Regions from separate parts of the Homo sapiens genome. Here region 2 is reported to be linked to region 1. Evidence: microRNA targets listed by miRTarBase, many of them from high-throughput screens and not tested one by one. Region 1 holds a microRNA gene; the other region holds the end of a gene's coding sequence.

Region 1 (4,151 bases):
GTGGGATGAAGGACTCTGGGGCCCAATACAGCCATAGGGAATCCTGGGCCGCTTGCAGAATGGTGTTGCTGGCACCTGAAGTGCATCCTCACCCACAGTCCTCCCTCTCTGGTCCCGCCAGTTTTGGCCCCTGCCTGTCCACACTAAGGCAGGCAGCTGTAGCCCAGAGGCCCCCAGGGAGGGCTGTGCACAAGGGCTGGCGCTTTGCCCCAAGAAGCCCATCCCTTTCTGCCAAGGCGCCTTTCCTAGGACCGTCTACGCTGTAGCGGCCCTCATCAGTCAGTGTTTTGGGGAGGACACCAAGGGCTGGGGGCTGTGGAGAGGGTCCTACTAGACAATAGTGACCAGAAAATGTCCTCTGAAGCAATACTTTCATCAGGAAGGAGAATGGGAAAGGAGCCCTTATGTTAAATGAGGAATTGATTGTATGAAGACAGAAATGATGTCCCCTTTATATAAGCCACTGAACTTGTTTTACAATGATCAGCTCAAGAATGTCTCTGACATTCTTGGTTTCTCCCTATTTTAAAAGGGATCAGATAGCATAGGAAACTTATTAGAATACAATAGTAAAATTTTACCCAATCTCTGCTGATCTCTGGCTTGCCTTTTTTTTAACACGGAGCTGAAAATCTACCAAAGCCTTCTGTGATGAGCCCCATTCTGCCCTACTTGACTGATTCATGGGCACCCAGCGCACTGCCCTGCATGCTGAGCTAGTCCCAGGGAGGCAGGAGGAGGGGCCTGAAACAAAGTAAAAGTCTGCCCCCAGCCTTTTAGTCTTTGATGAGCTTCTCATGTAATCGACATAGCCTGGAAAATCTCCTGGAAGAAGCGCCTGGTGGTACAGACAGTGCCTGCCGAGGAGCTAAGCAGGGTCAGAGATTTAGCCTGCAAAGGCCATGCAGAGAGCACGGCACACAGCAGGGGCCTAATAAAGACAAACTGAGTTAAGTCGAAGGTGAACTGAAGGTGGGAGGGGTAAACTCTGGGTAGCAGGACTAGGCCCCATCCAGCAGGTTTTCATTGAGAAGCTTTTCTTTCCGTTTAAAACTGACAGCCTGCAACCTATTTCCTGAATCCTTAAGCCTCATAGGTGCCCCAAAGGAACAAATTAACCAGAGCACAAAAGAGTGAGTGAACAGTGGGACTGATTTTTATTCTAAGAAGCTTCTCTCTTTCTGGGAACCAAATCATCTGCTGAGAGCAGAGGATGTACAGGCATAGGATAGGGGCTGAAGAGTGCGTGGGAGACCCTGGGGAGAACGAGGAGAGGAAGTACCAGACTACTAGACATGGCAGGACTACTCAGCAGTGTAGAGGAAGCCCTGAAGGGAGAGGAGGACGGCCAAGGGGCTTTGAGGCTCACGATGTGTGAGTCATTTTCTCTAGTGACGTGCTGCATGGAGAGAGAGCCAGGAAGATGGCCCAGGGCAGATTGTGTGGTTGGCTGGGCACGTAGACTCATGCAAACCAGGTGTGTCCTCGGGATAAATGCATTTTCCTCTTTTCTAGCTCTTCAGTGGTTCATGTGCCTGGAGTGAATGATATTCAGTCCTCTTCTTCCACGGGCCAGAACATGTCCCAAATCTCCCGGCAGCTAAACCAGAGTCAGGTGGCATGGACAGGGAGTCGTCCGCCCTTTCCGGGACAGGTATGGGCATCTGTGAGGGCATCTCCCCTGGGTGACCAGAGAGGCAGAGCACTCTGGGAAGTGTTTTCTTTGGATTGCGGTTCTGAGGATGGGTCGGCTCCTAGCTGGAACCAACCACCCTAACAGCAGCTGGCTACTCAGGAGCACCATCCACCCTCAGGGCTCTCGGAGAGCCAGGTGCCCAGCCTGCAACTTCAGCAGCCTTTTCTCCTTACAGCCATGCCCTGAGGCAGCTGGCAGGGAAAGGTTGGGCAGGTTGAGACACCTCATCAAGAATGAGCCCCTCACTACTCTGGACCTCTGGCTGCCCCTGCGCCAGGAGGGCATGAAACCACCAACCCTTGTGACATCCCCAGACCCTCATAGTCACTGTGAGGGTGGGTGTTGATTGGGCTGAGGGAGTTCTAGGTGTTCATAATGCCAAGGCCTTGGTAACCAGACTCCAGAGGGCCCGGATCCTCGTAGCCCTGGGGAGTAACTTCAACCAGACGTGCCCCAAAGATCCTGCAGTTCCTGGGCCCTCACACACCGGGCTGATCCCAGGCCTGTGCCTAGCCAGACAAGAGGGTCATGGGGAGTCACTGTCAACCCAGAGCAGGCACTGCCCCTGCGACCAGCCTGGGGCATCGGTTGGGGTGCAGGGGTCTGCTGGTGATGCTTTCCATCTCTTTGCTTTGTCCTGATTGTAGCAAATCCCATCTCAGTCCAGCAAGACTCAGTCATCTCCCTTTGGGATTGGAACGAGCCACACCTACCCGGCAGACCCCTCTTCCTACAGCCCCCTCTCCAGCCCAGCTACCTCCTCGCCAAGTGGGAATGCCTACTCCAGTCTTGCCAACAGGACTCCAGGGTTCGGTAGGTGGGGAATGAGGGAGTGAGATTCTGGGAAAGCCAGCACAAATGCTTTCTGAACAGCCTGAATTCAGGAGGCTGAGCTCCAAGCTCCCAGCTACCAAAACAAGGTCTGGAGGTTTCCAAGCACCTCCTCTCTCTCTGGCTATGAGGAGGCCTATGGTGTTCCTAAGAGACTGGATGCTTAGGCCTTGGCTTTGTGATTTGACTTTATCATTTTCAAGGCATTGGGATGATGTTGCTGTGCTGTGAGGTGATCTGAATACCATTTTAACCCATTATGGCCCTGGCAAGGATTTTCAGGTCCCCCAAGTCAAAAACCTTATAGTCTTGTTTCAAGAAACTAGAGAATAGCTATAGAGACAATCAATTGCATAAATAACACTGCAAAGTTTTCTGTCTCTTTTAAATATTAAAAACACCTATCTTACTTTGTTAACAAAACCTCAGGCCATAGAGGGTTAAGGAACCGCTGTGTCCTGTGCATTTCTCAGGATCCTGGGCCTTGCCCACTCTCCGTGTGTGTAAGGAACCTCCTCAGCATGTCTCCCAGGGCTAGGGTTCCACTCCACGTCAGGACAAGCTCATAAGAGACCCGTGGTCCTGGTAAGAAGTCCAAGCTGGTGCCTGCTTTCTCACAGTGAGGTCACTGGGTGACACCCAGCAGTGCGGCTCATAGAGCTTTTCTCTACAGAATTGATTCCTCAGATGAGCGTGAATCTGAGCCCAAACATCTGAATTTCCACGTGGCAAGTTAAAAGCTTCCATTAGAACTGCTTGTCTGTCAGCCTTATGAACAATTCTGTGCAGGCAGGGCGCGGTGACTCACATCTGTAATCCCAGCACTTTGAAAGGTCAAGGTGGCAGATCACCGGAGCCCAGGAGTTCAAGACTAGCCTGGGCAACATTGCAAAACCCTGTCTCTACAAAAAAAAAAAAAAAAAATTAGCCAGGTGTTGTGGTGCATGCCTGTAATTCCAGCTACTCAGGAGGCTAAGGTGGGAGGATCATTTGATCCCAGGAGGTTGAGGCTGCAGTGAGCCATGATCACACCACTGCACTCCAGCCTGGGTGACACAGTGAGACCCTGTCTGAAAAAACAAAAGAAAGAAAAATGCTGTGCAGAGCCCCTAGCACACAATGGGGAGTTGTCATCTGCTGCCCAGCCCTCCCCACCTCCTCCACTAACAGCAGCACGTCCGTCCCACTCAGCCCGAGGTCTTGGGGCACAGCATTTCCTGAGGCCATGCTTGTCCCTCCAGCCTTAGTCCCATTTACTTGCAGTGTGTCTCCTCTTCGTCTGTTAAGTATTCTCGCCACGTGGTTCACTGGAACCCAGTTTAGAAGCACAGCACCCTGTCTGAGGAAGGAGAAACCCCATAGCAGTTGCTCTCAAGTCAGCCAGGCACTCAGCACGGTTACCACCTTGAGCCCAGAATCCTGTTTCTCAGGATAGCATCCACCTTCCTGCAGTCACACGTGAGATCCTTCTCCACATCTGGTTCCCCACCCGGGTGTGGAGAGACCCCTTCACCTCCTCCTGAAGGTGGGCCTCATAGACTCAAGGCCTCCTGGGTACCTAGTCCTTCCCGGAAGCCCAGGGACCATCTGGCACCGATCTACTCAAAAAAACCTTCAGTGCCAG
Region 2 (4,000 bases), not on the chromosome of region 1:
AAAAGTATGGTTTCTGCTCACTTTCTTATATCACCTGCTCTAGGGGAAGCCACATACCAGTTGTCCACCAGGCAACTGGTGCCCAAGGAACTGAAGCCCAAGAGCCACGTGAGCATCAGGCACTGTGTGTGATACCCACACAGTGAGGAACAGAAGCCCAAGAGCCACGTAAGCAAGACATCTTGGAAATGGCTCCTCTAGCCTTGTCAAGCTTCAAGATGGTACAGTCCTGGCTAACAGCTTGACTGCAACCTTCTGAGATCTCAAGACAGAACCACCCAGTTAAGCAGCTCCTAGATTCCTGATCCAGAACTGTGGAAGGTAATACTTGTTTGTTGTTTTAAACTACAGTAATAACTGAGACACACTAGACAAGGATCACTCATTGCTTCTTAAATGAAAAAAGCAAAAATCTAATTATAACAATTTTGACTAGAAATATTAAATACTGAATTCTGTTAAAGAAAAAATCTTAAATTCATGTTTGATAAAAAGCTTAAAAGCCAATTCCCAACTCATTGAACTACCGTACTCCTTCCTTACAAGGAAGAAAAACAAAACACCTGAATATGTTGTCTGTAGCCAATAAACATTACTAACTAGATTGCAGCCTAAAGTGTCAAGTATTTCTAATAATTACATTAAAAATACAGCAGCAAGACAGTTCCTTGGATCTTACTTTTTCCCTCTCATTGGAACTGAATTGTAGATATTGGGCACTGTACCTAGCAAGTCACAGAAGATCTGAATTAGGATGCCTTAATTACACTTGGCCTATTTTAATGATTTTAAAATTAGATCTTAAATGTGAAAGTAAATAAAAGCAGTAAGGGAAACACTACACAATGAGTATGTACGGTTGCTGGCTGCAGAATTCAACAATACAGTTTTGACATTTACAGATATCACAGATCACTACCAGAACATCACATAAGTTTATTTCAGATGTAACAGCAATGTTAAAATTGACAAGTTTAATTCTTAACTGCACCAAGTAAACTTAGCCATTTAAGTATTTTTTTAAGTTATTCCCTCCAAAAAACTGAGGGAGCTTTTCTTTTCCACCACCACACCATGGTTTCCCAATAGTTCTCTTTTTGGAGGACTTTTCAATTGATGAGTAAACTGCTTTAGATATTTCAGAACTTCATTCCCCAAATGAAAGCTAATCTGGACAAACTATATATTGCATAGATTTCTCTACAGATTCTTTGCTTTAAAACCTAAATGCAACTAACATAGTGTAATTTTAACCTATTTGCCCCACAGTAAAAACTATCTGTCCTGAAAAATATGATGGATATATCCTGTGATTTTCCAGTTAACAGAATTGTTCTACTTCAAAGATAATTATTATCATATATCAAAATAACCAGCTCAACATAGGACATTACTTCAGTCTTTACTGACTCATAGGCATATGAACTTGTGCCCAGCTTTTTACCTCTTCCACATTCTCCTCCTCCTCCATAAGTGGATGGAATTATTTAACTAAGTTTGATGTAGGACAATTAACCCTTTACAAACATTTACAATTCAGGTTAAGTCACTGACTACCGTGGAAAAAGAAACTCTATATATAATGATAGGGAGCCTACACACTCAATTCAAAATTTAATATTTTTTCCTCCTTAAATAACATGTACTTGTCATGAGGCAGCTATTAGGTTTTCAATAACCACATTTAGGGATACATTCATAGGACTGATTAGATAGTCCAGGTGAAATGGTTATAGAAATAGAGGCAGTGTCATCTCAGAAAACCATTTATATATCAAAGTCTATTTTGATATCTGGGAAGTTTACAAAAAGGCTGCTGCATTCTTCAAACTACTTATGCCTTCTGTAACTCAAGCACTCTTCTCTTGCCAAGAGCAAGCTGAAGCTTATTCATGAAGATAAAGGTGCTTAACGCTAAACTTTTCTTCTAAGCTTAGATTTGGATTGTTTAAGAAACGAATACCCCCAAAAAACCAGCAAGGTCTTTCTACATTTTTACCATCTTAAGATTAGAACCCTATAAACTCATTCATCAACTGTCTTCTTTTTCTGTATTATTCTTGGCACTCAAGATTGTTGAAGTCTACTGCACTTTGTACTTTCACATTCTCAAATAAAAACTTAAGGTTATAAAGTGTGCATAAACATTTTATAAAATAATTTTGTCATTTAACATATTTGGAAATGAGACTTTATACCGCAATTTTACATAAGAGGATAAATATGAATGAAACTTCCTTTTAAAGTCAAATGACAGAAAGCTCAAGCCCTGTGCATTATTTTAAAGTCTGAGAACATTTCTAAATAGTGGAGATGGGACTACAAAAGGAAAACATGAATATTTCAGATGTCTCCCATCTTACAAAGTTATCAATCTGTCAAAGCCACTCCGTGTGTGCCGGAAAATGATCTGGCATAAACCAGTCCTCTCAGTGGAGGAGGTCACAGTGACATTTGTATTATTAACATTTTACACTTCTATTTTTCCAAGAATAGAAGCAATATGTTTAATAATTACCCCTGCCTCAAATCCTTAAACTCAATATCACAGGCACTGAGTATAAGCAAATCTGGGATGTCCTCCAACAGATGTGCAATAGCACAGCTATGTTATTCTCAAAAATACTATTTTTTCCTATAAAATCAAATGCTCAGTGGCCACACTTTTAACAGCTGGCATTAGATGACAGTAATTGAATTTTTTGTGTCACAGCCCATCTAAGCTTCCTTTTAGGTATTTTTTAGTATGTCCAAGAGAAAACACCTGCTTCAGGTTTATTTAGGGGTAGTGACCTATAAGGACATCAACTCAATTTTTAAGGTTAGACTATTGTTGGGTTTACTGAAGAAAAAGGAACGGGAAAAAATTAAATCACAACACACCTCTTTAGGTCAGTTAAAGGCCATATCTCTAGCTGGGATATTAAAAAAAATTAATCTCACCAGCCCAAATTCTAAAAGTTAATGCCACTAGTAACAATCAACAGCAGGAAAAACAAACCTGCTAACAACCAGCCCACTCATTAGCAAAAAAGCAGTTTAACTCAAATACTTAGACCAAAGTATAACACTAAACCAAACTGCCCCACCCACCAGCAAGAAGAGAAGATATAATTACTTAAAAATCAACATAAGCTTAGTATTTCTTACAAGGATAACAATGTTCCAACTCCCGAGAGAGTGCTCAGAAGGACTAAAGGTGGAGTGAAGGCAATGTCTAGGGATTAGTATCCCAAAGTGTTTAAAAACCCAAAGTACCACAAACACACTCAACTTGTCTATGAATTAGAGAACAAGATACTGCTGCTGCTTCTTTTTGTCTTTTGAAATATACAATGTTTTGTAGGCTCTGCCCTTCAATGTGAAAGCAGGACATTAAATTTGAAATTATTTGACAATTAAATGTTTAGGACCATCTAACTTCAACTGCAAAACTAAACAGATCTACCTTGTCCTTCCTTCAAACCACCTCACAAAAATAAGAGAAAACAATTCAAACATGATTATTTTTTTAAAGTCCTTGAAAGTATTAAAACTCTCAGAGAAAAGGAAAGGAAGAAAGAAAAACAAGAACAAGGAGGGAGAAAAGCTTTAAAAGAAAAGTGTTGGGGTGGGGGAGGAATCAATGGGCCTCTCTTTTATTTGGCGACAAGCAAGTGCAAGAAAGTTCATTTGTAATTTGTTCAGTTGTCTGTCTTTTGCACATCTGCATTCTGACCAGAAGGAACTTTGAGGTTTTTCTGCAGCACATGAGCATCTGCGGGCTCTATCCTCTTATAGTAGTTCTTCTTTGTCTCAATAATCTCAAAGCCAAACTTCCTGTAGAAGTCAATTGCCGACTCATTGCTGATCTGGACATGCCTGAGATATAAGAGAGTATCAGAAAAAAAATTAAAATTAAGGTTTCATCAAGTTTTAAGCATTCTCCACAGATAGCTCCAAACATCTGTTACATTCTCTTTACAACTACCAGTAATCAACAAGGGTTAGGCATGCTTAC

What was found. Region 1 holds the annotated microRNA hsa-miR-5572 (GUUGGGGUGCAGGGGUCUGCU, at 2,284-2,304, shown strand). A microRNA usually pairs through its seed, bases 2 to 8, with sites in the 3' UTR of a target mRNA and lowers its output. Matches are read on the target gene's strand: a 7mer-m8 pairs with bases 2 to 8, a 7mer-A1 pairs with bases 2 to 7 and ends in A, and an 8mer does both.
Region 2: the mRNA of NAA50 is a reported target of hsa-miR-5572. Seed matches in the 3' UTR shown: 7mer-m8 at 3,606-3,612.

Annotation. Positions count from the first base shown.
Region 1 is chr15:80,578,896-80,583,046 of GRCh38, forward strand. It overlaps MIR5572 (microRNA 5572), which reads left to right and starts at 2,208; the gene lies at 2,208-2,344. It overlaps ARNT2 (aryl hydrocarbon receptor nuclear translocator 2), which reads left to right. Exons shown (of 19, transcript NM_014862.4): 16 at 1,516-1,654; 17 at 2,344-2,509. ARNT2-AS1 (ARNT2 antisense RNA 1) reads right to left here. Exons shown (of 2, transcript XR_007064732.1): 2 at 1,135-3,866.
Region 2 is chr3:113,718,077-113,722,076 of GRCh38, forward strand. NAA50 (N-alpha-acetyltransferase 50, NatE catalytic subunit) reads right to left here. Exons shown (of 5, transcript NM_025146.4): 5 at 1-3,861. The coding sequence ends at 3,684. Among named protein-coding and RNA genes, the nearest start is that of USF3, 23 kb to the left of the region's middle.